Linked DNA regions of Homo sapiens: regions 1, 2, 4, 5 and 6 are each reported to be linked to region 3. Evidence: microRNA targets listed by miRTarBase, many of them from high-throughput screens and not tested one by one. Region 3 holds a microRNA gene; each other region holds the end of a gene's coding sequence.
Evidence for each region. Region 3 holds the annotated microRNA hsa-miR-1248 (ACCUUCUUGUAUAAGCACUGUGCUAAA, at 3,211-3,237, opposite strand). A microRNA usually pairs through its seed, bases 2 to 8, with sites in the 3' UTR of a target mRNA and lowers its output. Matches are read on the target gene's strand: a 7mer-m8 pairs with bases 2 to 8, a 7mer-A1 pairs with bases 2 to 7 and ends in A, and an 8mer does both.

Region 1 (5,076 bases), not on the chromosome of region 3:
CTTTCTCTGTGTCCCCAGAGCTCCAGATGATGGTTGAACATCACCTGGGGCAACAGCAGCAAGGAGAGGAACCTGAGGGGGCCGCTGAGAGCACAGGAACCCAGGAGTCCCGCCCACCTGGGATCCCAGACACAGAAGTGGAGTCAAGGCTGGGCACCTCTGGGACAGCAAAAAGTATGTTCAGGCTGGGGAGGGCCCCAGGCATCCTATTTCCCAGCCCAGCAGGAGGCAAGCCTTACCCACTGCGGGGAGGGGAAAGAGTTGGAGCCTGGGAGAGGCCTAGTAGTAGGCAAAAACTGTCTCAAGGATATGGATCTGTTGGCATGTTCGGCATATATTTGAATCTTCACTTTTCCTTACTGAGTGACACCAAGCCCTCCCAACTTGAACCTCAGAGCCCCACTGTGGCTACATGGGGGAAACCCACCTTCATGGGAACAGCAATCACAGGCTAGAATCCTGGCTCGGCCACTTGCTACCTTACCAGCTGAGAGGCCTTGAACGACTTAACCTCAGGGTATAAAATGATAATGAGGGTGCCTGTTGCAGTGGGTTGTGTGTGACTATTAAATGAGACTGGCTGTTGACACAGCACCCGACACACACAGAGCATGCAATAAGTGGAAGCTGGTAGCAGTGCGCTATGTCCCTTATCCTAGATATATTCCAGAATTCAGAATGCTTCCAATTTTATGAAGATATAGTACATAAACTGTGTATCGCATAGTATTCCCGGCAGAGAACCCTACAATCAAACACATAATATTTCTGCAATCCAGTGAATGGTCTCACTAAGCAGAATAAAGACTAAAAACAGCCTCCTATGAGTTCATGTCAGGTTTAGACACATATTGAGTTTTGTTTTTTAAACTGTAGAGGGTTTATTCTTTCCAATTTGATTGAAGATTTTTTAAAAGTGAACATATAGTAGTAATTGTGATCAAAGAAAACCCTGTTGGTCTTGCCTGATTGCACCCAACTTGGTCCTGGGGCCCTCTCAGGGGCCACTGGGGTATGGGTGCAGTGAGGAGAAGCAGTTCCCTCCCCAACACCTTTATGAATGCCACCTCTTCCTCCCACCCCTATGTTCCCTCCCCAGAAACTGCAGAATGCATCCCTAAAACTCACGAGAGAGGCAGTAAGGAACCCAGCACAAAAGAACCCTCAACCCATATACCACCACTGGATTCCAAGGGAGCCAACTCGGTAAGACCCCAGGGCTGGGCTGCCAGGTCATAGGAGAGGAGGCTAATATTGTGGACAAAAGCAAGGGGCTAATATTTGGAGTCTAGGAAAAGGAAAACAAAGAACCAGCTTCAGTCCCTAAAAAGTTATTCTTTATGGTAAAAGGACTTGTATCTCCTCTGACAGACAAAAAGAAATGGATAGCTGCAGCAAGAAGGATTGAGATTAGACTTTGTGTAGGACTTCTGGCTCCTGGAATGGGTGAGAGCAGTAGGCCATGGATTTTTTGATAAAGGGGATTTGGAACCCGAAGGGAGATCCTCACCTGCCCAGCTGAAGTGGGCAGTGGCTCTCCCTGCCTGGAGGATGCATTGATGAGATAACTTCCTGAGCTTTGATTTCATAATCCGCAGCCCCCTGCATAGACTGGACACAGGAAGGACTGCTCTCAGACATCAGAACAAGCTTTCTGAGACATTAGATGTTGACAAATGGGATGGCCAGAAGGGGAAGGGACAAAATGACCCTCTGGCCTCTCACCTTCTCTTTCTGTCCCCTTTCCCCCATAACAGGTCTGAGAGAGGAGGAGGTATCTTGGGATCAAGACTGCAGTTTGGGAATGCATGGACACCGGATTTGTTTCTTATTCCTTCACTTTTGGGGAAAATCTCTTGTTTTTAAAAAGTGATAAATTTGGTGTTAGGTCCTTGGCACTTTCCTTCTTTTCCAACTGGGAGAATCCTTTCTCCCTGCCTTCTTGCCCTGCCCTCTCTGTAGCCCCCACCCTCCTGCCAAGCTGCCTCTGGGAAGGAAGAAACAGGAGCTAGGCAGAAGCCTTGAGCAGGGAAGAGTTCTTCCCTTAGCCCTGACTTTACTTGCTGTGGGAAGAGAGATGAGGGTCAGATAGGTGGGAGGACTAACTTCCAGGGTGCCAAGAAGGAAGAAAAGCCCCAGGTTCTCTTTTCTTATTGAGGAACGATCCGACCACCTCACAGGCCTGCCCTGCAGCTGGAAGACTCGGCGCTCTAAGGCCTGTGCCGTGTCCAGCTGTGACTGTGCGGTGGGCTCCATCTGCTGGACAAAAGGGGAACTGCACCATGGCACTTGGCCCATGGGAAAGAGGGTATGGTGGTGTGCCGATACCTCCTCGCCTGCCCTCCAAGCCCCAGCTGCCTTCCTTTTGGATTCCCAAGCTTCAGGATGTGTTCCCTCTTCCAGCTGTGGGACCGCTGTCCCTTATTTCAACCCGTTAGCAACAATGGATAGAGAACACAGTGGCTATTAATGAAGAGGCCCATGCTGGAGACTGGAAGGGTTCCCTTGTCCTAGACATTGAGGGGCCCAGATAAGACCAAAACCAAGCATAAGAGAAGAAACTGTCTCAGATCTCACGGCCAGGCCTCTCTCCTGCTGCTGTTTTTGATTTTCCCAGGTAGTGGGAGAGAGGAAAGGAGGGAAGGCAAGATTCTTTCCCCCTCCCTGCTGAAGCATGTGGTACAGAGGCAAGAGCAGAGCCTGAGAAGCGTCAGGTCCCACTTCTGCCATGCAGCTACTATGAGCCCTCGGGGCCTCCTCCTGGGCCTCAGCTTGCCCAGATACATACCTAAATATATATATATATATATATGAGGGAGAACGCCTCACCCAGATTTTATCATGCTGGAAAGAGTGTATGTATGTGAAGATGCTTGGTCAACTTGTACCCAGTGAACACACACAGTCAGGCCTGGTCTCCCTTCTTTATTGTTCTCTGGCTATAGCAGGGGTCTGGGAAACCAAGGGCAGGGGTGAGTCACATGCGTCTCTGCCCTTCTCGGGGTGGGGTAGGGTGGAAGTACCAGGGTAGCAGGTCTAGGAGACCATGGATGTGGATTTCGCATGAACAGGGCCCACTGTACAAATGCATGGTTGGTATTTACAAGAAAGAAGGAGGGCAGTCACCTGGACTTTGGCCTTTCCTGGGGCAAGGTGGGGGCAAGGAGGAGCCTGAGGAGAGGAAGGGGCACCGCGCCTGGCTGGGTTCTCTCCAGAGGACAGGAAGGCAGCAGCCCTGAGCCCCTTGTCCATCTGCCTTTCACCGACTACCCCTCACTTGTCTCAGGGGAGGAGCTTCTTAGTGCCTGCAGCTGGGCCAGTTCTGGGACGTGGAGAGGAGGGGACAGACCCTCTCTTTTAGCAATGCAGGATTACTCACCCTCCCCAGGCACCCTTGACCCTAACCCAGCTGGTGTCGATACATTCTGAAGGTGCTTTGCTGGGGAGATCCTCAAAGCACTTTACAGACATTGGTCGGATGGAGCCTCCCAGCCCCAGGGGAGAGGAAGGAGGCAAAGGGCTCCGGACTCAGGGCAGGCGACAAGCCCCAGGGGCCCAGACCAGTCCCAAGGAAGGTCCCAGGAAAGGCCTCCCGCAGCCCCTGGTCACAATGGCTCCTTTTGCCCCAGTCACTGTATCAGAAAGGGAGGGAAGGAAGATTCAGAGGATCAGGCTGGAGATGGGGCTGAAGCAGCGCAATTCTGGGGTGAAGAGGATGTCCTCTCCACCCCATTCCCAGGTCCTAGAAAGGTACCATGCCCTGAAGGAATCCACTCCCCTCCCCACACATAGGGCTCTGAAAACCCCCAGCTTTCTATCCTATTCCAGCCCTTCCCAGGGGAGGAAAAGGGGCACCCAGACCTGCCAGCTAAGATCTGGGGTGGGGGGCTGAGGGAACCCCCAAAATGTATTGCTTAGAAACTTGGAGGCAAAAAGGATGGGGGAGGTCCCAGGGGGCTGGCATCTCTGACCCTTCCCCAAGGCCCTGGGAAGCCTCCAGGAAGCTCCCCGCTCCCTGGCAGCCACCTGGCCATGAAGAGAATCCAGAGGCTGAGGGATGGGCACAGTGACCACTGGGAGCCTGAAGTTCCCCAGTCTTGCTGCCGGAACATTAAAGTGCACCCCAGTGGGTGTCAGGTGGGGAGGGGCCCTTTCCCCAACCCCAAATCTCTGGCATTTGGCCTTCAGGTGGGTTGTTTCTTCCACGACCACGCTCCCTTGGAGCAGATGGGGGAGCCAGTCCTGATGGATGGTGCTGATGACATCAAACACTTTGGACTCAATGAAGACCTGGGGAAAGAGGGAGAAACTTCAGTGCCCTGAGCTTTGCCTTCACCTCCAACCTGACCTTCCTTCTCCAAGTCCTGATCCCCACTCAGTCCCGAGTAGAGCTGTGCAAAAAATGCCCTTCAGAAGGGTGCCCAGCCAAGGGGGTGAATAGGGGCTGAAGTCGAAGTCACGTTCAGCTGCCCTCACTGAGCTGTGTGCCCTGGCTGGGCTCCTTTTCCCTAACCCTCCCTAAGGTGCGGTGCAGGTTAGCTGTCACCTGGCATGGGCCCACCCTGTTCTGCTGCTGTTCTGAGAAGGTACCTCCTTTGTTCCTGCAGGGACTGGGGGACAGAAGAGCGTGGGAGGATTTCCCTGCTCCACCCACACTTTGGCTCCATTCTATGTCTTCACTCGCTCCATTTTACTGCTCAAAAGGGGAGAGAGAATGTCGCATCCACTGGAGCCCAGAGACGACCCAACAAAGATGCCATGATAGACACCAGCTCTCCTACACCCTCCACCACAACAGGCTCACCTGGGCCAGCCCCAGGGCTAATCCAGATTCCCATTCTGGTTGTGTTCATCTTCGGCAGGGGATGGGGGGGCCTCTTCTTCACAGGGGGACAGCTCGTCAATGGACATCTGGTTGGTGATGCCTGTAGAGGAGCATAAAGGAGGCTGAGCTTAGGCCAAGAAGTATTCTTCCCCAGAACCCAAGGAGTATGTGGAGACATGTAAGGGATTCTCATCCATCAACCTGCCTTCAAGCTGAACTACATTCAACCCATCCCCACTTGGGAAGAGCCT
Region 2 (5,086 bases), not on the chromosome of region 3:
CACTGCAACCTCCGCTTCCCAGGTTCAAGCGATTCCCTGCCTCAGCCTCCAAAGTAGCTGGGATTACAGGCACAGGCCACCACACCTGGCTAATTATTTGTTGTATTTTTAGTAGAGATGGCGTTTCTCCATGTTGGCCAAGCTGGTCTCAAACTCCTGACCTCAAGTGATCTGCCCACCTCGGCCTCCCAAAGTGCTGGGATTATAGGTGTGAGCCGCTGTGCCCGGCCCCTTCCTCCTCTTTAATTTTCTAAAGTATAGGCTACTATTACCAAGAAATCCTAAATTGGGTGATGTGCACACTTTAAGTATTCTAATAGTTAACAATATTCCAAGACAGCTTCTTCATACTGTCCAGAATGCGATTATACACATTTGGATGTTTAATCTCCTGTTATGTAGAATCTTAGAGAAGCAGGGTTTCAGGCTTGCAGGGCAGAGTTTAAGCTTGCTGAAGGCTGGTAGCACTATAAAGAAAATTGGCTACCTGGAAATTTCCTCATTGCATAAAGGTTATAAATGCATCCTTTAAGAGGGACTGATTCTTAGTACAGCATAAAGGCAGTAGTCTATTTTGCATGGGATCAGCCTTGTTTGCAGTTTTGAATGACAGGTCCACAAACTGAAAAGTTTGGTTAATAAACCGTGAATCCCAACATCTCTTTATTAGCACTAAGAAGAGTCAAGTGATCTCAATTACATGGAACAGAGAATTGAGGCAATTATCCAATCATTCAAACCCAGAAAAAAAAAAATCTTTGGCTTGAATTATACAGAAAGTGCCTCAATTTCCTATTAAAACTTTAGAAGCCCAACTCTGACAAAAGTCTTTCCTTTCAAGATGTCTTAGGGGTAAAGCGAACAGAGTCGCCATCAGAGTATTGAGTTTTATAAGTTGTTAGTAGTTTCCAGGTCACTAACCACATTTTTTCCCCCAGGAAATGAATTCAGGAATTTCTTTGAACACTTAGCTCCATTGGAACAGTAGTCTAAGCTTCTTTTTATTCCCAGGCATGCATTCTTTATTGGAATAGTAAGACACCTTTGGAACAGGGGCAGGTATTGTTTTTTGTTCGGAAAAAGGGGTAAACAAATGGCACCAAAGGAAGGTAGAGGATGTTAATCTACAGCTCAAAGTTCTTATATAGTTTAGCAACTAAAATTCTAATGGTGGGTTATGTTTTCTTGGGATTCTATACACAGGTGGCATGTGGACAGCAGTTGGAAAGAGAAAGTACAGAAAGAAGTTAAAAGTATGCTAGAAAAAACAGTAAATGAAGAAATGACAGAGGTGCCAAAGCCAGGTGAAGTGAAGAGGTAAAGCAATAAACCCTTCAAAGACAAAGACAATCAGCGTTCAATTCTCTTGTCTTTGTTAGATGAAAGGTAGGCCACTCCTGTGTCCTCAAAATGGAGGGACATTTCAAGTACTAGAAGGTGCACTCTCCTGGTACCTTCCTAAGCCCAACCAGTTCTGAACCCTGCCCCCCACCTTCCCAGCAGTCCCAGCTCCAAGCCTGCAGCTTTGAAATGCAGGCCTTTGGAATGAACGGCAGGCCTGGACAGAACACATCCTGGAATCGCAGTCTATCGACTGGCATTGCCTGATGTTGTTTATGCTTGTATTTACCCAGGCTTCCATCCAGCCACATAAATTATAAATTCATCTATACACCCACTGGGGAATCCAACGCACACACGGCACAAAAGGGAGAATATGAAATATTTTCACAGGTAAATTAATACAGGATTTAAAGCTCTGGCTTACCTAGACATTAAAATGAGTAGAGGATGTAACTCTTGCTGTAAAAACTTCTTGTTTAAGTAGCCCTAGAATCACTTTTTTTTAGGCCTAATACCACTTTAGGAAATTTTTTTCAGCTGCTACATTTAGGTATCTAATGCCATCATAGAGCTCTCATAGCATTTTTGCAAACTATCTTTGCAATGCTTAAAAGAAACACTGAGATCAGGGGTCAGTAAAGTTTCCATCGAGTCCCATAAAGTAAATATTTGAGGCTTTATGGGCCATACAGTCTGTTTAGTATAAGACGCTGCAGCTGTAGCAGAAAACAGCCACAAGAAGATATATAAATAAATGTGTGGCCATGTTCCAATAGAACTTTACTTAAGGACACTGAAATTTGAATTTCAGATAATTTTCACATCATGAGATCTTCTTTTTTTTTTTCTAGCATTGTTACCTTGTGGGCCATACAAAACAAGCAGCTGGCTAGATCTGGCCATCAGCCCATAGTTTGCTGACCCCTGGTGTAGATGGTTGAAAGATGAATCTTGTTGCTGTCACAATAACCAAAGTGGTAGAGGGATCAGGGAAAGGCAGTGCAAGGAAAAAGGAGGCAATATTGTGAAGTTGCATTCATCACGGTTTTTTTTCTGTATCTTATGATGTTCTGGTATCTTATAAATTTTGCTGGCAGGGAAGAGACTCCCAGGACTAGCTAATTCTTGGAGACAGCAAAGGACTGAGCCCTGAGCATATCTAACTATTGTCAAGAACATAGCCGCAACCTTCCCCTTTATCTAACTTTCACACACCAAGCCAATATAGAAATTGCCCTAACTCACCCCAGGGGCTAGGTACCAAGCAAATGGAGACCGCCCCTCCAGCCCAGAGCCTGCTGGAATTATTCAGACTTGCCAATTGGAAACTGTTGGCCTTGCTCTGCCTTGCCTCCCTGCAGAAACCTCAGTCAAAGCCTATGCTTTCTTCTTGCTCCTGCTTCTGCCCCCGACCGACACCGGTGCTTCCCCTGTGGCCCTGCATGGCATGGCATGTGCCCTTTCTCTGGGGAAATTGAATAATATAAAGCTTTCAGTGGCACTGGCCTCTGTGTGTCATCACTCAGCTACCCCCATAAATTAAAATCTCAACAGGTATCATGAGGCAGAAGTGTCTTCCTACTCTGAGCGGGATCCCAGGACCAGCAGCATCAGCATTCCCTGAGCCTCATCCCAGACCGACAGAATCTGCATCTGCATGTAAAAAAGATTCCCGGGTAATTTGCAAGGATATTGAAGTTTGAGATGCTGTGGTGGTGTGGTTTAAAGCTTGAGGTCTGGAATTAGAAGGCCCATTTCAAGTATCTGTGCCTCTCATTAGCTATGTGGCCTTGTACAAGTTATTATTATTTCCACCCCTAATAGGTAGAGATGAATCTATGCTAAACACTTAGAAAATGCCTGGCAAATAATACTATCATTCTTTTTTAAAAAATAAATGCCCATGCACAAACTGTTAAGATAACTTCCTCAGATACATTCTTAGCCAGTCTCTTGAACTGATCCACTGTGATTATAGCCCATGCCCGCCCCCAACAATTCCACCCATAAAAGAAAAGAAAGACGCCACAACTCCTGGCCGCAGAGTGTAAAATATATTGATGGCTGTAAAGGGACAACTTGGGGATATTTTAGGTCTGCTGAGATGATGCACAGCATACATACATGCTCTAGTTTTTGGAACCATGTCATTAAGTTTTCAAATACATCTGTTTTGAACATGGTATTTTGTTTTTCTCATTAGCACGAATTACTACTCTACAGTTTCTTCTAGAGTAAATAAATATAATGGCTGTTTGCAGAGCGACTACAGACTTACTTAGATGTTTAACAAGGTGAACGATTTCACAATTAGATCAACCATTGAGTTAACAGCAAGGTGTTTTTCATCTGTTTTGTTTACTGCTATAGTGGGGACAGGTAACTTCTCCAATTTATTCTTTGTTGACATCTTTAGTTACCAACAGACTCCCAAAAGTAATGAAAAGTCGATTAAAAAGAAAATTGTAATTATGCCATGGGTTTTCCCAAGATCCTTAAAGTCAGCTCATTTAAATTTACAAGAGAAAAATAACAGGCATCATGGAAAACTAAGTAACAAAAAGCTATTGAAAAATACATCTGTGGAACACAGTGGTCAGTTGTAAACAGCTCAGAAGAGCAAAAAAAAAAAAAAAAAAAAAAAAAAAAAGTCCTTCTAGCATGTTAAGCAGTCCAATGACAAACTCTGCTTTTTATTTTCTTTCTAGTGGCTATTTTCCTACCACAGTGTTGAGCTTCATTATTATATTAAATAACTTATATGGGTAAAAAGGAGTTTGCTAACCAGCAGCCAACTCAAAACCTTGTAGGAGGAGGGAGGAGAAAAATTTACAACACAGCACATACTAAGGGGAAACAAAGTCTGCAGTCAGCTTCCAACCAGTCTTACCCCTCTCTGGCAATACTGATTGAGCTAAGGTTTGGGATCTAAACGGGGGGGTTTTAGATCCCCTCCCTCCACTCCTTTCTTCATTTAAGTTAACAAAAGAAACGTGGGCTTCCTCAGAGCCAGCACTCAGCTGGGCAAGTCCCATTAGCAGCAAATGTTCAACCAAATTAAAAAAAACACACACACACAAAAGAAAACTCCATCCAGGTGCAGAGCTGTGATTCACATGGAAATTCCAGGAGATGAATAATGTGCAGAGCCGGGATTTTTAGAGGATTCTTTCTCAAGTGTCTTCAGTGAACATTTCAGTCTCACAAAATCTGAGTCTATCTGTCAGCTGCAGGAAATAAGTTCTCCATCTGGTCTTGAGTGAGCTTGTGTGCTTTGCTGACCCGGGTGCTCCAATGACTGCAGGGTCTTCATGAGTGTTCGTGGTACGAGATGCCAGAAAACAAAGGCCAGCCCCTCCATGATCTGCAGGAAGCAGCAGCAGCAGCAGGCAGGCAGCTCCCATGTGTTAAACTCTGCCTAAGAGGCTCGACCTGAGTAATAAAAACAACACAACCTAAGACAGAATGTAACAGACTACTTGAACTAGGATGAAAATGCCTTGTGTAATACTAATTTTATCTTTCCTGTGTTTTAAGTTTGATTTTACAAAGTTAAACCAGGAAAAAAAAAATCAAGCTTTTAAGTCCTATTGGCTCTCTGGGAAAACTGCCAGTCACTTAAAAAACAAACATTTATTAATGGAGATGGCAAAAGCTTAAACAGATAAATCTATATCTTGCGTAGGTTTATATTATAACAAAAACAAAAAAAGCAAAGATCATTAATGATAAAGAGCTTTTA
Region 3 (5,076 bases):
TGACCAAAAGCACCTTTAAAGTGAATATACAATTTATTTAACATTCAAACTTCATTAAGACATGTGCAATATGGCAATTTTACTGGGGATTAAACCCTACCTAGGATTGCTTGCTGGGGCTTAGCAACAGGGTCCAGTTCACACTTAGCACTAATTAAATACTTTATTGAATAAATACAATACCAAACAAAATGCATTCAAATGCTTTCTAAAAAAATTTTAAAGGCCTTTCTACTCAGGCTAATGACAAACACAATAAAGGCAGATATGCTAGTTTAACATAATTGGCTGATTTTATACAGCACTTATATCTTTTAGTCCACAAGTATATTATTAAATGATAGAGAACATCTAATACAACCATTTCTACAGAACTAGGAAATAAATTTCTAAGAAAGAAAGATTTTACAGACCCCATCTTTTATACCCACCCCAACAGTCTAACTCTAAAGAGGATAAAGCCAATGACTTTCCTCACAAGAGCTCACGACTAACGTCGCTTTGCTATCAAAATCTGTATTTCTGATCCGTTATGAGCATTGAGACAAGATTCAAATATTCCCAAAGAAAGAAGCACAATGCACGTTGTGATCGCCTATTCAGCAACAGCGAGCACTGCATCCAAAACTCTCATCCCAGGAATTAAATAAGGTCAGCCACATTCATGGGCATCTCCTCCACTGTAGTATTGTAGAAAGTCTCAATGTCACGAAGAATCCTCTTGTCTTCTTCAGTAACAAAGTTTATAGCCACACCTTTCCTCCCAAATCGACCCCCTCTGCCAATTCTGTGTAAGAAAAAGAATCAGAACGTTACTTCTCACATAATGTATAAACTACTGAACATGACGATCCACTTGTTAACCACCAGCTGCTGTTTACTTATCAAGGTTATAGTTCGTGCTTCTAACTGGAGCACTAGCTGCTAATGCATATCTAGAGAAAAAAATCTTCCTTTGCAGTTAGTGCCAAAAGGATTCAAGGCTTGTCTGGCTGCAAAATGAGATTTTTATCAGGCATCTTGAGCATTATTATAAAGCAGATGACAGTATCGTGTTTGGGGTAGTGAAATTAAAGCCCATACCAAAGTGGGCCAGCCAAGAGCAGGTGTCAGCCTGGGACAGATGTGAACACCAGGAATAAAAGAGCAGTTATGTAATCCATTTCGACGCACTTCTGGAACTGTAAACTGTAAACAAATGCTGCAAAGGTTAACTATTTTCTAAAACTTACTTTTTTCCAGTGGGAAAACAAATATTTGGTATGGTAACCCAAACTTATCACTGCTTTTTTGCTCAGTTTCACACGTTGTAACTCAAATTACTCTAAACGTGTTTAACTGCCAAACAGCTACCTGCATGTTAGAAACCAGACAATACAAACCACCTAATAAGAAAGGTTCCCTAATAGAAATACTAATACAAAAAAATGCCTTAGCTGGAGCAACTTAAAAATCAAATAATCATGACAAAAGAAAAACAAATATAAATACCGACTCGCTCTTTATTCAAACAGTGTGCTGTTTCGCTTATGATTCCACGTCCTAAATTACGTCAACGCCGTTTCTGAGTGCCATCTCGTCACCAACTGCTGCTATCGACTCCTGTATTTTTTAAAAAGTCTTTTTTTACATCATATAACAAAGTACAATTCAATTTATTTAGGGATAAAGCCACTATAACTAAACCAGGGTTCACTCAAATTGCTACCAGGCGACACCAAGAAAATCCCAACTATAGAAAAAATCACCAAGAAAAACACATGGACACAAGAACATCACTAAAAGCTCAAGCATAAGGTAAGACCAACAATTGTGGAAAAAAACCCTATGTCCACAATCTGGGCAATGTTTACAAGTTTTCCCACTTTGTTCTCATCAACCTTCCCTAGTACAAATTTAATTACATCATCTTACTGAACACTACTGACTTTACTGAATCTATTCCTTGATTTGATGTTACCTTTCATACAAATCACAGTAGAAAAACGTATGAATTTTTTTCAATACAGCCAAGATGCTGGCTTCTCACCTGTGAATATAGTTTTCACGATTGGTAGGTAGATCATAATTTATAACCAAAGACACTTGTTGCACATCAATCCCGCGAGCCTGAAACACAATGGCATGTTTTAAAAATTGATTCAAAAAAACTTGACACCTGTCATGTAGGCCACAAAATAGTAGCGAACTATACTAAGTGGTATAGCCCACTGTGGAGTGTGGTCTTTTACTCTTCCAAATAGCCCAAGTTGGCAAAGGTTACTTAAAAACCTGCCCCCCAAAAAGCTAACTTTTGGTAGATTTTTAAAAAGCATTAAGAGACTTACCAACAAGTCAGTAGTGATCAGAACACGACTTGACCCTGACCGGAATTCCCTCATGATAACATCTCTCTCCTTCTGGTCCATGTCACCATGCTGCAAATTAATAAACCTTAATTCAAGAATCACCAGTCAGGTCGGTATTTAATTTTAATCAACATGTATGAGACCAAGCGTCCCTGGCTGCTACAGGAGAATAGCAGACAGGTATAGTTAAGAAACAACTTTATTTTAAGCAGGGGGAACGACAACACAGCACTTAGCAGCTATATTGTAGTCTGAATCCTGCTTTAGTGGAAATCCAGACATTTTAGAACACCTCTTACCAGAGCAGAAACTGTGAAGTCTCTGGCATGCATCTTCTCAGTCAGCCAGTCCACCTTGCGCCTCGTATTGAGAAAAATAACAGCCTGTGTAATGGTCAGTGTCTCGTACAAGTCACAAAGTGTATCCAACTTCCATTCCTGTAATGTTTAGAAGTTAAAGTTAACAGTCATTTAGTTTTTCCAACTCTTCAGTTAAAAATTCATTCTGGGCCAGCCACAGTGCTAATGCCTGTAATCCCAGCCCTTTGGGATCCTAGCACTTAGAGCCCAGAGTTCCAACCAGACCAGGGTTTCAAGAAAGTGAAACTGTCTCTACCCAAAATACCAAAATTGGCCAGTCTTAGCCAGTCTCATAACCCAGTCTCAAAACGTAGAAATTATAAAAATTAACTTCATTCTGTTAGGTCTAATGAGATATTGCACCAAATCTTAAGACAAAGGACATTGGACATTAAGAAAGAGGTCCACCCCAGTCTTTACAATCTAGTGCTGTTACTTTTCTTCTTGTGTGTACTCTGCTAGCATTATTGCAAAAACCAAGACATGGTCCTAGTGTCTGCAATTTTAGCACAGTGCTTATACAAGAAGGTAAAATAATGTCTAACAATCAGACAGTTACCTCTCTCTCAACATTAATATAAAACTGTTTGATTCCTTCAAGGGTCAATTCTTCCTTTTTCACCAGAATTCGAATTGGATCTCTCATGAATTTTTTGGTCACTTCCAACACATCAGTTGGCATTGTGGCAGAAAGCAACACAACCTTAAAAAGAGAAAATTATGTTGTAGCACAACTTACACATTAATACCCAAAGGAAAATGTCTGAAGCCAAGCGTCTCTGTCTTACTACGGAATGAAGGTAGACAGAGTTATGCATCAAGTGCTTTAAGCAGGGGGAACGACAACAAAACACATCAGTTGTATTGTAACAGTACCTGCATTAAATAAACCCCATCTCTACCTTTAAGAGGGGGGTGAAGTAATGCTTACCTGAATACTTGTGTTTAGTTTTTGGAAAATCTCATAGATTTGATCCTTAAAACCACGGCTCAACATTTCATCTGCTTCATCCAAAACAAACATTTTGATCCATTTTGGAGCTGTTAGAAACAAAGTCATACTGTCATTTCTAGATCTACTCAGTGATACAATTTGACTTTTCAACTATGTTAACAGTTTTAAAAAAAATACTCTCTTAAAGACAATACTTACAAAGGTATCTTCTGTTTAACATATCAAACACTCTCCCGGGTGTACCAACAACAATATGTGGTGCTTCAGCCTGCAGTTTTTGCATTTCATTTCGAACATTTGTTCCACCAATGCAGGCATGACAAGTGGCTCCCATATAGTCTCCAAGTGCCAGAATTACCTTTTGGATCTAAAACCCAAGCCTTAATTATTATTCCGCAGAACTCCAGGATCAATGACTAATTTTTAAAGCATAAAGGCAAATATAATCTGGTCTGCCAACAGCTTTTATGCATGCACAGCACAAAACTACTTCCAAGCTTAAAATGCAGACGACCTAACTGCTGCAAGGTAAAATTCCCTTAATGTCTTTCTTATGCCTTGTCAAACTTGGGATGCTGCTGCTCCACGCATCAGCTAGACAATCCAAGAATAACGTTTCCTACATTATTCTTCACTGTAGGTAGGGAGTACGTAGTGAAATTTATGTTCTGTAATTACAGCTAGGGCAAATGATTTTTTTCCCCCAGAGGGTATTGTGCCTTATATAATCCTGACCTCAATAAAGCCTACAGCTTTATTAGGAAGGTTTACTTCAAAGCCAATATAGCAGTGAGCTTTGAAAACATAGCATGCAACAGATGCATCACGAACTACGGAGACAGTCAAATGGTAACATGTCACTGCAGTTTTCATGTTGCACAACTGCATTCAAACTTAAAAAATGGGGACAGATCTAGTACATCCAAGAGAGCGCTTCGGATTCTCAATCTATTAGTATACAACCCTACAAACCATACCTGCATACCCAGTTCTTTTAAAACTTTCAACAAAAACTCCCTGCATGCATGGACAATTAAAAGGAGGGATCTGGTAGGACCAATTTATACTAAGTTTTAAATTCTTCACAGTTGTGAAACCTGAAACCTATGCAACACGCAAGCAGTTTTTTTGAACTACACTATCAATACCTGTTGAGCCAGTTCTCTGGTGGGGGCCAATACTAGTGCTTGGGTCTCCTTGAACTCAATCTCCAACTGTTGCAGGATGGAAATAGCAAATGTGGCTGTCTTGCCAGTACCTGACTGAGCTTGAGCAATCACATCATACCCTAAAAAAAGTAGGATACACATTTACCGATCCCACATCAAATTGTCACTTCTACTTCACACCATGTATTCCATTTGGAACATTATGCCCAAATAATCAAGTGATCAGCAATGAGTATTCTCTTCAT
Region 4 (5,086 bases), not on the chromosome of region 3:
ACCCGTGATCTGGCCCTACCAGCCTCTTGAGCTTTTGCCATTGTGGACAACATGGTCAATGTGAACTTCCTCCAATACACCATGCTCTGAAACTCAGCCATGGTTTTGCACGTGTTCCCATTCCCTGGGGTGCTCTCCTCACTGCTCTTTCTGGCAAACCCTTGCCCAACATACAAGTCTCATATTAAGAGTTAACTGTTTAATGGGGCCCTCCCTGACTACCCTGGACACATTTCCTTCTCCTCCTTTTGCACACGGCACATACTTCCATTATAGCACTTACCAGGTCATATTATTGTTTATTTTCATGTTTGTCTCGCTTTTGTTCTGCTTTGGAGCAAGACTATATTCATCTCTCCATCCCCACACCTAGCATAGTGTAGTGAGTGCTTAATCAATACTTTTGAATGAGTGAATGAATGACAACAGTGCCATTTACTTGGTTTGAAAACCCTGTTTTTATTGTGAATTCACTAAGAAATACTCTACTTAAACTAGCAGAAATTTGATAACCTTTGAGGCCTTATGGACTTACCAAGGTAGAACTTTTTGGGTAAAAGCTGGATCTCTATACTTTTTTGGATTGGGATATCTTTTGCTTATTTTGAGTTTGTTTCAATTACCTTAGCTTCAGAAAGTATTAAAATGCCAATGTGGGTCACATCCTTTTAAAGGGATATATATCTAGTCAAGGTTGTTTGGATTCCTCAGACAGGGTTCTTAACTGGACCTAAGAAGACTTAAAGGAAGAAATCTCATTAAAAATGAAAGCATAATAAAAGTTTGAATATATTATTAGATGTGCTGCTTAGGGTTTTTGATAGTTTGCTTATTTTTTGTTTTTGTTTTTTAGATTTGTTTGTGAGGGAACAGTAGAAGAAAAGATCTTACAGCTCCAAGAAAAAAAGAAAGATTTGGCCAAACAAGTTCTATCAGGGTCTGGAGAATCTGTCACCAAGCTCACCTTGGCTGACCTCAGAGTCCTTTTTGGCATCTAACCTCCTGTGGATAAGGGCTCAGAATAGCACCATTGCTGGTTTGTATTAGGATCTGGGAATAACAACCTAACCATGAGCCTTGAACTCTGTTCTTTGCATTTCAATTTCACCGTCAAGCCTTTCACCTTCCTCAAAATGAGGCATAATCTTATCCCCAGAATTGAGGAGGGGTTGTGTTAACCAATTAGTTAACCAATTATGTTAATAATTTATTTAATGAGTGGTATGGAAACCAATTGATTTTTTTAGATAAAAGAATATGTTTTAGAGTTGGATGATTTTGGAAAACAACTCTGGCAGAATTGTATATAAGCTTCAGTAAAGTTCAAAAAGCGGGCCAGGTGTGGTGGCTCATGCCTGTAATCCCGACACTTTGGGAGGCCAAGGCAGGAGGATGGCTTGAAGCCAGTAGTTCAAGACCAGCCTGGGCAACATAGTAAGACCCCATCTCTATGAAGAATAAAAAAATGAGCTAGGCGTGGTAGTGCACACCTGTAGTCCTAGCTACTTGGGAGGCTGAGGCAGGAGGATCCCTTGAGTCCAGGAGGTTGAGGCTGCAGTGAGCTGTGATTGTGCCACTGTTTTCCAGCCTGGGCAATACAGTGAGACCCTGTCTCAAAAAAAGGAAAAAAAAGCTCAAAAAGTTCTGTGTTGCCTTTCTCTTCTTAGCTGATGATGGGAGAACCAGTTACTACCTTCTCTAACACAGGCTCCATCCTATCTCTTCATCTCTTCTTGCCAGTGATGTTGCACCTGTAACCATCTTTTTATGGGTGGAGCAGAGAGTCAATCCCTGCAGCCACCCTGCAGCCAGCCATCTCTGCAGTTCTCTCAGTGCAGGCAGTTCTTCCTCTCAGGCTGAAGATCAAGGAGATGCTTTGTACATGAACAGATGCTGAGTATCTGTTATCATTGTATTGTTTAGTGTCAGTGTATCATTTAGTATTTGTATCACTGTACCATTTAGTGTTGTATATCACTCAGTCATTTAATATTGGTTATCACCATACAGTTTAATATTTGTATCATTTGGTTCATTGTATCGTTTAGTATTTCTATTATAACATTTCTATTTGTAGTATTTGTATAATATTTGTGTCATTTTTAATAGTATTTGTATTTTTACAAATTTGCAGTATTTGTAGCATTTAGTATCATTGTTTCATTTAGTATTTGGTACAATCTAATAAATACTAATCCAGTCCAATACTAATCCAATCCAATACTAATAATACTATTGGTACAATCCAATACTAATAATACTATTGGTACAATCCAATACTAATAATACTAACAGTAGTATTGATACAATCTAATAAATAATGTGTTTGACAGTGTAGCAGAAATAATGCTATGTGTTCACCAAACCCACTTCCTTTTCCTCCCGGGCACCCAGAGAGACTGTATTTCCCAGTTTTTGCTGCAGTTTGACGGGGTCCATATCAATGGACTGTGGAGAGAAGCGATTGATGTAAGTCACTTCTAGGTGGCCCTCTACCACTTTCCAAAAGATCATTCATGCTGTTTCTTCCCTCCTCAGCCTATGGGATGCAAAGGAACTGATGGAAGATTACAAGGCCCTAGGGAAGGTGAAGCCACTAGCTCAGCAGTTCTTAGCCTAGTTTTTGGCCATCAGCCCTTCTATTAGACTAGTGAAGCCTCAGTCCCAGGATGGCTCCCCATGTACACTTCCCTCCTCGCCCCAGCTCACCTACACTGGACTATGACATGATCAAGGAATCTTTTTTTTTAAGCTACTGAGATTTCTGTGTTGTTTACATAGCAGTTTGTACCCTAAACAAACACTTGAGATTTTATACTTCAGGAAACTATTCAGATTTCCTTCTCATTAGCAATTGTTCCAAAAACACTTACTCTGCTAATTTCTGCTAGAAAGAATCACAGTTCTTCTAACACAGAAACATTTCTGTCCCTTGAGTTGGGAAACAAGACCCTATGTTAACCCAGTCAGAGTGTGGACTGAGGCATTCGGAGCCTATTTAAGCAGAAGTTTTCTATAAGGACAAGATTTAAAGGCTTACAAAGGTAAAGACAATGGCCTGGTGGGAAGAATTCTAGTCTAGAACGTTTGAGATTTGACTCTAGTTCTAGGTTCATCTTAGCTGGGTGTGTAACGTTGAAAAAATTGGCCGGGTGCAGTGGCTCAGGCCTGTCATCCCAGCACTTTGGGAGGCCGAGGCAGACGGATCACGAGGTCAAGAGATCAAGACCATCTTGGCCAACATGGTGAAACCCCGTCTCTACTAAAAATACAAAAATTAGCTGAGCGTGGTGGCGTGCGCCTGTAGTCCCAGCTACTGGGGAGGATAAGGCAGGAGAATCGCTTGAACCTGGGAGGTGGAGGTTGCAGTGAGCTGAGATCGCGCCATTGCACTCCAGCCTGGTGACAGAGCGAGACTCCGTCTCAAAAAAAAAAAAAAAAAAAAAGAGAGAGAAAAAAATCCTTACTTTCTCTACACTCTGATTTCCTCATTTGTAAGGTGGGCAGTTTTCAGAACTTAGCAGCAATAAGGTTTCTGATAAAATCAAGAAGCAAAGGAAGTAACATTGCCTTTTTGAAGTTTTGCTATAAGATTGACATACCAAGGTAAAGATTGAGTCACCTGAGAAGCAGTGGCTCCCAGGCCAGCAAGAATGTACAAACCTGGCTCTGCCATTTGCTGATTGATATTAGGCAAGTTGCAGATTCCTTGGACATCTCAATCCTTTCATCTGTAAAATGTGTGGATTAGCATGTATCTCATGCTCCACTGGGAATTTCATAGCAAATATATATACTACAACATGGTTGACCAGATAGATCAGTAATGTCAACTAGAAGGTATTAGATGAACATTGTCAGTCTCCAATCAAGCATTGTTTAGGGGAGAGGAATTCTTTCAGGTTCAAGCATTCTGGCTTTTAGTTTGGAGAGGGATGCAGGGATTGTAACTTAAAATCTTCAGATATTGAGGCCATTGACAAGTAATCTACTGTAAGGTAGATGCCTCCTGGTATTTTAAAACAGCTTTTCTAATTTCTCATGTTATTGTACATAAGCAAAGCAACCTAGTTATGTCTTGGGTAGGTGTTCTTATAGCCGTGAGATGCTACTGACTTGAGGTGGATGCAGAAAAAAATGGAACCACTGCCTTAATGGGATGGAATATACTAAACATGCATTCTTAAATCCTAGTGCTGGGATGGATTACATGAATTACATTGTGGAGCTGCATATGTGTCTCCCCTCTTCCCTCCCTGGGGGTTAGGCTGGGTTTGTTTGGTTTTTTTTGTTTTGTCCTCATGAGGCTTAGCATCTAAGGGAGACAGGCATGAATTAACAGAAGTGGCATTCTGGTATCTGTCTCAGCCTCATATTCATTTTAGTGTAAATCAGTTTCGTCAAGTCTAGGTATGACAAGGTGGGTCTTTGCACCTTCTAGCGATGGGCAGCATCCCACAACACAGTGGTCTAATTGAGGTGCTGCACTATGAGTCCTGCCTGTGTTAACCAGCCTTCCTTCATGTCACAATACTGCTGCTGGATTTGCTTTTTACATCTGCCTATTGCACCTGACTTGGGCATGGATGATATGAGGTAATAAATGCTTTGAAAACCATGAAGGGCCACACAAGTGCTAGTGTTATTGCTGTGGGACAAGGTCTGGGAATATGAGAACCAGCAGCAGCATGGGTGCAGCTGAGAACCAGATGGTGAACATCTGTCTCCAAAGTGCAACATTCCTGAGCACCGGATTTATAAGGCATTTCTTACTCGACAGAATTGACTTCATGGAAGGTATGTAGTTTGACTTTGCCTTAGCCATGTTGATCAAATAGGAGTATTGTGCATGCCGCAGCTAGACAGAGTCCTGGGCCCTTTAAAAACCTTGTCAGTGACTCCCATTGCAGGCCCAGCGCAGTGGTTCACACCTGTAATCCCAGCATTTGGGAGGCTGAGGCAGGCAGATCACTTGAGGCCAAGAGTTCGAGACCAGACTGGCCAACATGGCAAAACCTCCTCTCTACTAAAAATACAAAAGTTAGCCAGGCGTGATGTTGGGTGCCTGTAATTGCAGCTACTCGGG
Region 5 (5,086 bases), not on the chromosome of region 3:
GCACACAGTTGATGCCATAGAGGAGGGTGATTCCTATTTAATCTGTTTCTCCCACGAGCCCAGCAAGGAGGAGCCTAGTAACCAGGTCTTACCTCTGTGTCCCATGGCAAGCTTGGAAATGGAGGTGTCTGTAAATGCCTGTGGGATGACAGAGGAGACCAAGTGGGGAATGGCAGCGGCCTCTGACTAGGGGAGCTCCTTCCCTCCCTCCCTCCCTCCCTCCCTGATCCTTGCCTCTCTCCCCCAGGTGTGGACAGTTCTGTGTTCGAGGCTCTGCCCAAGGCCTCAGAGCAGGCGGAGCTGCCTCGCTGCAGGCAGGTGGGGGACCACGGGAAGCCCTGCGTCTGCCGCTATGGCCTGAGCCTGGCCTGGTACCCCTGCATGCTCAAGTACTGCCACAGCCGCGACCGGCCCACGCCCTACAAGTGTGGCATCCGCAGCTGCCAGAAGAGCTACAGCTTCGACTTCTACGTGCCCCAGAGGCAGCTGTGTCTCTGGGATGAGGATCCCTACCCAGGCTAGGGTGGGAGCAACCTGGCGGGTGGCTGCTCTGGGCCCACTGCTCTTCACCAGCCACTAGAGGGGGTGGCAACCCCCACCTGAGGCCTTATTTCCCTCCCTCCCCACTCCCCTGGCCCTAGAGCCTGGGCCCCTCTGGCCCCATCTCACATGACTGTGAAGGGGGTGTGGCATGGCAGGGGGTCTCATGAAGGCACCCCCATTCCCACCCTGTGCCTTCCTTGCGGGCAGAGAGGGAGAGAAGGGCTCCCCAGATCTACACCCCTCCCTCCTGCATCTCCCCTGGAGTGTTCACTTGCAAGCTGCCAAAACATGATGGCCTCTGGTTGTTCTGTTGAACTCCTTGAACGTTTAGACCCTAAAAGGAGTCTATACCTGGACACCCACCTCCCCAGACACAACTCCCTTCCCCATGCACACATCTGGAAGGAGCTGGCCCCTCAGTCCCTTCCTACTCCCCAACAAGGGGCTCACTATCCCCAAAGAAGGAGCTGTTGGGGACCCACGACGCAGCCCCTGTACTGGATTACAGCATATTCTCATCTCTGGCCCCGAGGCTGCCTGTGGGGCGAGTGGAGACCTCCCATCACTGAGACAGATCACAGACCACGAGTGCCTTTCCCGGACCTGGACGTTGCCTCCAGAGCAGGCACCAGCTCTTTCCCTCTCTACACAGAAATATTTTTGTAAGGTTCTGGGGCAGGGAGGGAGCATGAAGTACGAGGAAAACTTGAATTCCAGATTTTTAGTGCAAAGTATTTATCATTTCTACCAGAAATAAACGTTTTAAGTTTTTACTTGACTAATGAGACCCAGAGTTTGGAGAAAACTTTTGGCCAATGCTGCCACCTGATGTCAGAAAGTGTCCCCACACCCTAGCAGTGGCCTATCTTGGAACAAGAACTTCGAAAGCACCTACTGTGTGCTCAGCCATTTGAGGAAGGAAGGAGGAGAAGGAAGATGTTACTAGGGAAGGATGAGATAAAACTTCTGCACCCAAGACAATGAGACAGACATAGCTGCAACCGTAGTAAGCCAGTCAGAAATAGCCAGCGCGAAGGCAAGAGATGGGGTGGAGATTGGAACCCCGCTTCAGATCTGGGCTCGGCTACTTACCTGCTGTGCAGCCATGGGTCAAGTTGCTTGACCTCTCTGTGCCTCCACTCCCTTAGCTATAAAATGAGCTTACTTAAGAGACCGAAGTGAATTCTTGCATGTCAAGCATCTAGCACATAGTGCTGTTAGCCATTCTTAGTATCATTACTATTAGTGAAAAAAGCAGACATTCCTGCAGCTATAAGCCTGACTCAATGAAATCAGACATCTGGAAGGCTCTTCACTTCCAAAGTATCTTTCAACATGAAGAGGCTGTAATAGGAAGTGCCGGGCAGGGTTCTGGATGGTTCCAGAGCGAGGGATGTGCAGGCTGCATGTATTGGGAAAGGCTTTCTGGAAGAGTTGGGGTGTGGGTTGAGGCTGGAAGATGGTAACGATTTGGCAAGGTGGAGGCAGGAGTGTTTTAGGGGTTGGAAGAGTCTCATGGGTTCCCCAGGTGACCCAACTTTCTCAAGGAAGAGATGGGGACAGTCAGATCCTTCCTTGAAGGCCTTGGCGAGGGAAGGGGTTTGCAGGGTGGTCCCCTTTACTCTGCTCCCAGAACTCCCAGAACAGGCTGCAACTGCCCCTTGAACTCATGCAGGCCAGAGGGTTGAGGGAGCTGGGCTTGCTTGGCCTTGGTTGAGCTGAGGGTCAGCGGGGAGATAACCTTTTCAGGTGGGCACACCTCCCTTCTGAACCTGTTTTCAAGGACCAGCTCAGCCTTGCTGGGGGATGGGGAGGGAGCTGTCCCATCAGTCACCCCCCAGTCCTTTTTCTCCTTCCCTTTCTGCCAGGGCCTCCATCCCAAGCCCCAGCCATTGCTCCAGGTGGGCAAGGGATACTTGGAGAAGGCACCTGCTACCTCCTGTGTGCCTTTTTTGATGGAAGGGGAGTCCCCAAATCAGTATGTTTTCCCTTCTGATTTCCAAGTCACCAAAAATAATGCTTTTTTAAAAAGCAATGTTTTCAAGACTTGGAGTGTTTTTCTGACCTTCCTTGACTAGCACCTCCTAGCTTGTCTGGCCCCTGCAGTGAGGGGGCTCTGGACACCATCACTACAGACACCAGCTGCCTTGGGCTCCTTAGTCTCAGGGGATGGTGATGAGAAGAATCCCTGAGACTTTGGGCTGACCTTAACACTCTGCAAAGTAGGCACCTCCCACAGGGCCACATCCAAGGGCTCGAGTCCACCATTCCAAAGCACTCGCCCAACCGCCTTAGCCCCACTGTCACAGCACCTGAAATCCTGCCGTGACAGTCACTTCTTTGCTGAAAAGCAAATTTTAGTGTGCATCAGAATCACTTAGGAGCTTGTTGAAATAGATGTAGGTGGTCAGCTGTTTGGCAAACACTGAGATAAGACTTCCCTATCGCAGGAGGCTTTTGTGGCCGTGTAAAACACTTGGGAGTGGTAATATCAGTACTTATTTCTCTGCGGACTTTAGGGTTTACAATGTGCCTTCATATAAATTGGCCATTGGCTCCTTGTAGTGACTCTGTAACATTTTATAGATGTGGCTCCCTTATAAAATTGTGTGACCAGCCCAAGTTCAAGTCCAGGCATCTTGTTAGAACAGAACTGAGATCCAACCCCTGTCCTTCTTACTCCACACCCCCTCCCAACCCAAAGTGCTTTATGAGGTTGGCCAGCCAGAACTTCCGAGAGCACAGCTCACCCACAGGAGGGGACCTAGGCTTCGGTGGGACGGGGAGGAGTGTGGAGTGTAGAGCACCTGCTGGGCCAGTCTCTGTAGTAGCAATCATTGAACATGTGGGCAGGGGGTGGTGGGGACAGTGTCCAAAGATTCCTGGGACCAGAATTGGCAGGAAGAACTGCCTGATTTCCGTTTGCCAGGGTAAGCAAAGCACCCTCGGGGAGGCCAGAAACCCAGCCCTGACTGGTGCTGCTGCAAGCCGGGAGGATGAGTTGTGCCTGGTTCCCTGGGCAACCTCACCCGGGCTGGGCTGGACCTCACTATGGACTTCCTGTGGGTTTTCTTCAGGCATCTCTCCCTTCAGGCTTGTTAGCCAAGGGAGGCCTTCAGTGGGGGAACTGTGGGCCACAGCTGGAGGACCTCTACCCCAGGGTCTTTATTGGACCTGGCTCTGGTGGATGAGGGGACAAGGACTCCGGCAAAAAGGAGGGCAAGTGCCACTCTCAAGAACCAAAGGCTCGAGGCCAGCATTGTATCTGAGGAGCATGGGCACCCGCTGGGGCCCAGCTCTGTGTGACCTTGTGTGGGTCACACACATCCCATAAGAGAGAGGGTCTCACTGGGTTATCTCCAAGGTCTTCCCCAACACGGGCATTCCATGTCTAATCGCCTAATATTCTCCCAAATGGTCTATTGGCCATTTGGCTACTGATGGAAAATCGAATTGTTTACTGTGACTTGCTCTTACAAGCCAGGTTGTAGGCAGGAATAGAAAAAACAGGCAACTGACTCTAATCCCAGCACTTTGGGAAGCCGAGGCGGGCAGATCACCTGAGGTCAGAAGTTCAAGACCAGCCTGACCAACATGGCGAAACCCCCTCTCTACTAAAAATACAAAAATTAGCCGGCGTGGTGATGGGCGCCTGTAATCCCAGCTACTTGAGAGGCTGAGGCAGGAGAATCGCTTGAATCCGGGAGGCGGAAGCTGCAGTGAGCCAAGATCGCACCACTGCACTTCAGCCTGGGTGATGGAGTGAGACTCAATCTCCAAAAAAGAAAAGAAAAAACAGGCAACTGGAATGTCTGTGTCACAGGCGTGAACATTGTAGATGCTGTCAGATCACCCTACAGCTGGGGCCGTTCCAGTTTACACACAACTAGCAGTGTCTGAAAGTTCCCGTTCTCTCATATTCCTGTGGTATCAGTCAGGGCTCTCCAGAGAAACAGAACCAGTAAGATACACACATAGAGAAAGATTTATTTTAAGGAATTAGCTTGCTGGATTTTGGGGTCTGGCAAGCCCAAAATCCTAACAAACTAGCAGTCTGGCAGCTGAGGCAAAACTTAATGTTGTGGCCAGCCGGGAGTCTGAAATTTGTAGGGCAGGGCAGCAGGCTGGAAGCTCAGGCGGGACTCTTGTGTTATAGTCTTAAGGCAGAATGTCTTCTTCAGGAAACCTCCATTTTCGCTCTTTAGGCCTTCAACTGATTGGATGAGGACCACCCGCAATACAGGGGTGATCTTTTACTTAAAGTCAACTGATTATAAAGGTAGTCACGTCTATAAAATACCTTCACAGCAACGTCTAGGCTAATGTTTGACAAAACAGCTGGGTATGAGAGCCTGGCCAAATTGGCACATAAAATGAATCATCATGCCTGCCATCGCTTGGTATTGTCATAAACTGTTCGCTGTTTGACCAGTGAGAAACATGACAGCATTCCAGGGCTTATTCTCAGTATCAGCTATTGGCTGTAGCCAGGTGACAGCTGGGATGGTTGTTCCCCTCCACCCTCCTCTGCCCTCACCTGGGA
Region 6 (5,000 bases), not on the chromosome of region 3:
CCCTTCCCAGTGACAGTTTCCTACTACTGAAAGGGAAGGACAGATCACTTGCCATCCCTGCCACACAGTTTCCTCCTCTGGAAACTGGGGGTGATGACCCCTGCCCTACCCACTTGTCATGGCATTGGGGACATGAACACACTTTGCACCTGTCAGGCAAGGCTTAAACAGGGATATGCACTGGTAATAGAAAAGAGGGACTAAGTTTTGTTTTGTTTTGTTTTGTTTTGTTTTGTTTTGTTTTGTTTTGTTTTGTTTTGTTTTTCTGAAGAAGTCCCTAGAAGCGCTCAGTGTTGGAATGCTCTCTTGTAGCAGTGGCGGCTGCTGCTGGTTCCGGGTCAGATGCCGGAATTGGGGGTGCGCTTGGGTGCAGCTGCATTTCATCTGGTCCTGGGCCTCGGTCCTGGCTTGGAGAGGTGCAGCTCACAGCCACTTCATGGCTGGGATCCCTTCTGTCCCAGACAGCTGAGGAGACCCTTGGCCTCAGCCTGAGTGTCAGGGGGGTAGTTCTGATAACTCTGTGTTTTGTTCACAGGAGCAACCAGGGTTTTATGCACATGAAACTGGCCAAAACCAAAGAGAAATACGTTCTGGGTCAGAACAGCCCTCCGTTCGACAGTGTCCCGGAAGTCATCCACTACTACACCACCAGAAAGCTACCCATCAAAGGGGCTGAGCACTTGTCCCTCCTCTATCCCGTGGCTGTGAGGACCCTGTGAGCGGACCAGACCTGCCCTGCTCTGTGACAGAGCCTGAGACTTGGAGGTGCCAGAGGCCCCCCACCAACCAGCCCAGCCACTGTTGCTGGCTGTGTCGTTTGTGTTGTGTGTATGGTACTAGCACACCACTGCATGTCTCTAGAATGCTGTTGCCACTTACGGGGGCTGGAGAAGGCCTGGATAAAGACAGAAGGGCGGCAACACACCACCCCAGCCCCCACCCCCACCCTCTCCTTGAGTTTCTGTGAATTAAAATATTTGCAAATCCAAAGAGATGCCTTCCAGGATGAACAAAGGCAGACCAGCTCCGAGGGGCGGGGTAGGGTGGGGCGGGAGCTCCCTGGCTGACATCTCTTTGTTCTCCAGCTGTCTCAAATTCACACCTCTGTACAGGGCAAAGTTTTCCCACAGGAGCCCCCCTACTGATGCTGGGAGCCAAATGCTGGTGCTTTGAGAGTCCCGGAGGCCCCGGGGTTCCCGCCCCGCTGGTGTGTATATGTGTGTCTGTGTGAGTGTGTGTGTGAGTACAGATGTGAGAAGGTGGTCACACACAGATGGGTAAGCCCACTGATCTACTTGTAGTCACTCAGTGTAATCATTAGGCTATCTTCAAGGAATCATTGTGCAGTCAAAAAGAGGATTCAATTATTTATGAATAGGGTGTGTAAATAAAATAGTCATTTAATATATAGCCTTATCCTTTTTTGATATACTGCAGAGGGTCTCTGAGGGGGCAGTTCTGGTTTCACTCCCAGAGCAAGGCGTGTCTCCTCTGGGCTTGCTGCTGTGGCAGGCCCCAGGGAGGGGAGGGAGGCCGAGGCCTCAGCTCCAGCCCTCAGCAGCTCTGGACACAAGAGCCGTCTGCTCTGACAACTGGGCTGAGGCAGTCGGTAGCACTCTGGGAGTCAACCCAGAGCTCAGAGTTCAGGCTTCAGCAGTGGACATAGTCAGGAGCCTCCAGTGTTGACCAAAAAACCAGTCTTTCCCTCCTGCAGTGGGACGTCTGTGTTGACACCCCCCCAACCCCTGGACACAGCACCCAGCTGGCTACAAAGGGCTCTCTCCCCACTATCTGTTAGCACCACCTGGGAGGTATTTGGCATGTAGGGAAAGGGAGACAGAGAAGGAACGTCATTTGCCCAAAGCCACACAGCTCACCAGCAGCAGAGCGGTTCTGCAGCCAATGCTCTTTCGTTGGTTCTGCATGGCCTTGCTGTCACCCTGCCCATGGAGGAGGGAGAATCCTGACCTCCCAGGGACATAGAGCCCTCAGTGGTCCACACTGCTTCCACACACAAGAACACCTACACACACACACACACACACACACACAGCCCTCAGTGGTCCACACTGCTTCCACACACAAGAACACCTACACACACACACACACACACACACAGCCCTCAGTGGTCCACACTGCTTCCACACACAAGAACACCTACACACGCACACGCACACGCGACCTCTCTCTTGCTTGCCATAGCAGGGTCCTCCCACACAGGCCAGGCAGCCCCGATGAGGCTAAGAGTTTCTCAGCTCTCCTGCTTTTTCCACCCACCCAGTAGCATGAAGATGTGGCTGCCCTCTCCTGAATGAGATACAAGGGTTCCAGAGCCTTCGCCAGGCACCAGCTGGTCTGAATGAACTAGAAGTTTGACGACTGTCATCCCTGGCCCACCTGGGCAGAGCACAAGGGGCCGAGTTTGAATGTCATCAGCAGGTTCAGACATCAGCGCTGCTCATGTCTTTAGAGACTGTTTGGAGGTGGTTCCAGCTCACTGTTCACATGCAGAGACACAGGCCCGGAGAAGGAGGACTCGCCAAGGCCACGTGTCGAGCTGGGACTGAGCCCTGCCCCTTTAGGTAGCTGCGTGGACTTCAGCGGTTTGTGCAAAGCCCTGCCCTTGGTGACCCGCCTTTAGTGACCAGTCTGCCTCTTGGGTCTTCCTCCCAGGCCTTGTCTGGCACGTCCACGTGGCCCAGCCCTCATAGAGACCACGCTGGCTGTGGCCTGGGTTTAATCTCTTAAAGAAGCCAATCCTTTCCTTGCCTGTTTGGCATTTCCTAAAACATCCCTCAATGAGGGAGGAAGGCAGGGACACCCTGGAACGATTCGTGCTTTCCTTTGGGGGAGTGGGAAGGTAGGTGGGAAATGACAAGATGAGTGAGGAGTTGGCACTTGGCCAAACAGAGGAGCCTGGACCCCAAGGCTTATTCTCAGAGGAGGCCCAAGAGAGGCTGAGGAAGAGGGGGAACAACCCTCCGGCGGGGGAGGAGGGTGAGACCTCACACTGGCAAGTTCAGGTCCAGCCACTTCCTGAGGCTGCTGGGTGGGGCCGCACCTCACGGTCCTTCCCTGTAGACCATCTTCCCGGGCACATTGCTCCTCAGAAAAGGCTCTGGGAGGGTCTCAGTGGAAGCTGGCAGCTGTGCCCTCTGGCCCTGACTTGGCCTCTTAGGGTATTCCTGGGACCCTCCCTCTGTCCCTGGCCTTCGTCTTCCTGAAGTTTCCCTGGGAGGCCCAACCTCCTGCCCCTCTCAGGGACAGAGGCCAGCAGAGGAGCCAGCTTACAGGATGGGAGCTGCTGAAAAGAATTTTTTTCCCTTAATTTTATGAACCTCTCCCTCTTCTTCCTCTAATTGTGACCGTTTCCTGTGTCAGCCTGTATTCATGTTTTCTTGGACATCTAACAATTGAAACAGCTTTTCCCTTTCAGAAACACTCACATTCAGGTTACTGGCTTTGGTTTGGTTTTTGTTTTGGGTTTGTTTTTTTTTTTTTTCATCTGCTGCCAATTAATTGGGGAAAAAATTGAGCTGGATTTCTTTGAGAGAAAAGAAAAGCTCCTGCCACACAACGTCGCGCCCTCGGCATTTTGTCTGAGAACCTCCAGCACTAGCGGCTGTTTCTGTGTCTCCCTTCTTTGCTGGCTTTATTATTGACCATAATGCCTGCCCACTTGAGCAACTCTGTCCTTGAGCGCTGAGGAGTCAAGGGCCCTTCTGGCAGCCCCCCAAACAGGATGGCGCCCACAGAAAGAAAGGAGGCTTTGTAGGGGAAGAGGGCCCCACCGCCTGCCAGTCCCGTCCTGAAGTCAGAAGAATGGCCCAGGCTGACACCCTCTCCTGGAGAGAGGCTCACAGCGTAGCTGTTCCCAGGAAAGGGGTGCAAAGACTCCGAGGCTTCAGGAGGCAGGCCCTGTCCTCACAGGGCGGCTGTGGGCCGGGGCCCCTCTGTGGCCTGAGAGTGAGCAGGAGGGAAACCTGAAGCAGCTACCCGCAAGGCGTCCGGTCAACAGGGTGGAGCTGCAGGCTCCCTCTGCCCATTCCCAGAACCAGCGGCCCCCTTTGTAAGATGCTGAACACGAAGTTCCGGTAGCTCCCCAGACGCTGTCTCAGAAGTGGTGATATCATTGACCAAGGGCCTGGCAAGGACCGGCAGCCAGGGTCCCCATTTGCTCTTGCAGCCCTAGGGACTGTGCAGGTAGAAGCCCTGCCAGCAGAGCAGGCTGGCGTTTGGTGTTGGCCCACAGACACCCGTGAAGGGTCATGGCCGAATCAGGCAGCTGTCCAGCCAACTGTCTCTCCACCCTTCCAGAATTGGTGATCAGCGAAGACCAAATTCGGCAAGCCATCCAGAGGGAGTGCAGGGCGCACAGTCTTAGATGTGGGCGCACCTCCCAGAACCCCACGGGGACTTGTTCACAGGCGCGCTTGCAGGAGGGCAAGCCCCTTGGTCCTGGAACACAGGTGCCCCTTGGCCTTTCCACCTCCCTCCTTGGGGCTGTTTGCATCCCTGCCAGGAGCCTTAAACCAGCCACCTACTGCTGAAGTCTCTTGTAACATTCCAAATCTATGTGACACACTGTATAATGATGAATATTTAATGTGAAGCTCTTAATATACTACAAGTGTCTTGTTTACCATTTGTCTTTTTTTTTTCTTTCTTTTTTTTTTGAGACAGGGTCTTTCTCTGTTACCCAGCCTGGGGTGCAGTGGCACAGTCTCCACTCACTGCAGCCTTTGCCTCCCAGGCTCTGGTGATCCTCCTACCTGAGCCTCCCACATAGCGGAGACTACAGACATGCACCACCATGCCCAGCTAATTTTTCCATTTTTAGTAGAGATGGGGTTTTGCCATGTTGGCCAGGCTACTGGTCTCACTCCTGGGCTTAAGGGATCCTCCCACCTTGGCCTCCCAAAGTCCTGGGATTACTGGCGGGTGCCTGGCCACACAGTGTCTCCTTTAAATGCACCTCCTTGAGCATGCATGATTTTTGT

Region 1: the mRNA of PDE1B is a reported target of hsa-miR-1248. Seed matches in the 3' UTR shown: 7mer-m8 at 2,920-2,926.
Region 2: miRTarBase lists RASGEF1B as a target of hsa-miR-1248. Seed matches in the 3' UTR shown: 7mer-A1 at 3,996-4,002.
Region 4: miRTarBase lists TTF2 as a target of hsa-miR-1248. The part of its 3' UTR that is shown has no 7-base or 8-base seed match.
Region 5: miRTarBase lists OAF as a target of hsa-miR-1248. Seed matches in the 3' UTR shown: 8mer at 1,002-1,009 and 7mer-A1 at 1,471-1,477.
Region 6: the mRNA of SHB is a reported target of hsa-miR-1248. Seed matches in the 3' UTR shown: 7mer-A1 at 1,841-1,847 and 7mer-A1 at 2,526-2,532.

Annotation. Positions count from the first base shown.
Region 1 is chr12:54,577,074-54,582,149 of GRCh38, reverse strand. PDE1B (phosphodiesterase 1B) reads right to left here. Exons shown (of 16, transcript NM_000924.4): 15 at 4,805-4,925; 16 at 2,911-4,290. The coding sequence ends at 4,822. PPP1R1A (protein phosphatase 1 regulatory inhibitor subunit 1A) reads left to right here. Exons shown (of 7, transcript NM_006741.4): 5 at 19-174; 6 at 1,100-1,206; 7 at 1,758-2,904. The coding sequence ends at 1,763. Among named protein-coding and RNA genes, the nearest start is that of PPP1R1A, 9.0 kb to the left of the region's middle.
Region 2 is chr4:81,423,017-81,428,102 of GRCh38, forward strand. It overlaps RASGEF1B (RasGEF domain family member 1B), which reads right to left. Exons shown (of 14, transcript NM_152545.3): 14 at 3,377-4,776. The coding sequence ends at 4,752. Among named protein-coding and RNA genes, the nearest start is that of RASGEF1B, 46 kb to the right of the region's middle. RefSeq lists an enhancer at 4,159-4,743 and a silencer at 4,519-4,813.
Region 3 is chr3:186,784,836-186,789,911 of GRCh38, reverse strand. It overlaps MIR1248 (microRNA 1248), which reads right to left and starts at 3,240; the gene lies at 3,135-3,240. EIF4A2 (eukaryotic translation initiation factor 4A2) reads right to left here. Exons shown (of 11, transcript NM_001967.4): 4 at 4,811-4,950; 5 at 3,861-4,029; 6 at 3,639-3,748; 7 at 3,267-3,410; 8 at 2,648-2,785; 9 at 2,328-2,417; 10 at 2,030-2,109; 11 at 15-787. The coding sequence ends at 643. RFC4 (replication factor C subunit 4) reads left to right here. Exons shown (of 11, transcript NM_002916.5): 11 at 1-12. It overlaps SNORA63B (small nucleolar RNA, H/ACA box 63B), which reads right to left and starts at 3,589; the gene lies at 3,465-3,589. It also overlaps SNORA81, SNORA63, SNORA4 and SNORD2.
Region 4 is chr1:117,100,527-117,105,612 of GRCh38, forward strand. It overlaps TTF2 (transcription termination factor 2), which reads left to right. Exons shown (of 23, transcript NM_003594.4): 23 at 854-5,086. The coding sequence ends at 998. Among named protein-coding and RNA genes, the nearest start is that of MIR942, 8.4 kb to the left of the region's middle.
Region 5 is chr11:120,228,621-120,233,706 of GRCh38, forward strand. It overlaps OAF (out at first homolog), which reads left to right. Exons shown (of 4, transcript NM_178507.4): 4 at 248-1,714. The coding sequence ends at 522. Among named protein-coding and RNA genes, the nearest start is that of POU2F3, 9.0 kb to the right of the region's middle.
Region 6 is chr9:37,915,540-37,920,539 of GRCh38, reverse strand. It overlaps SHB (SH2 domain containing adaptor protein B), which reads left to right. Exons shown (of 6, transcript NM_003028.3): 6 at 536-4,642. The coding sequence ends at 719. Among named protein-coding and RNA genes, the nearest start is that of SLC25A51, 14 kb to the right of the region's middle.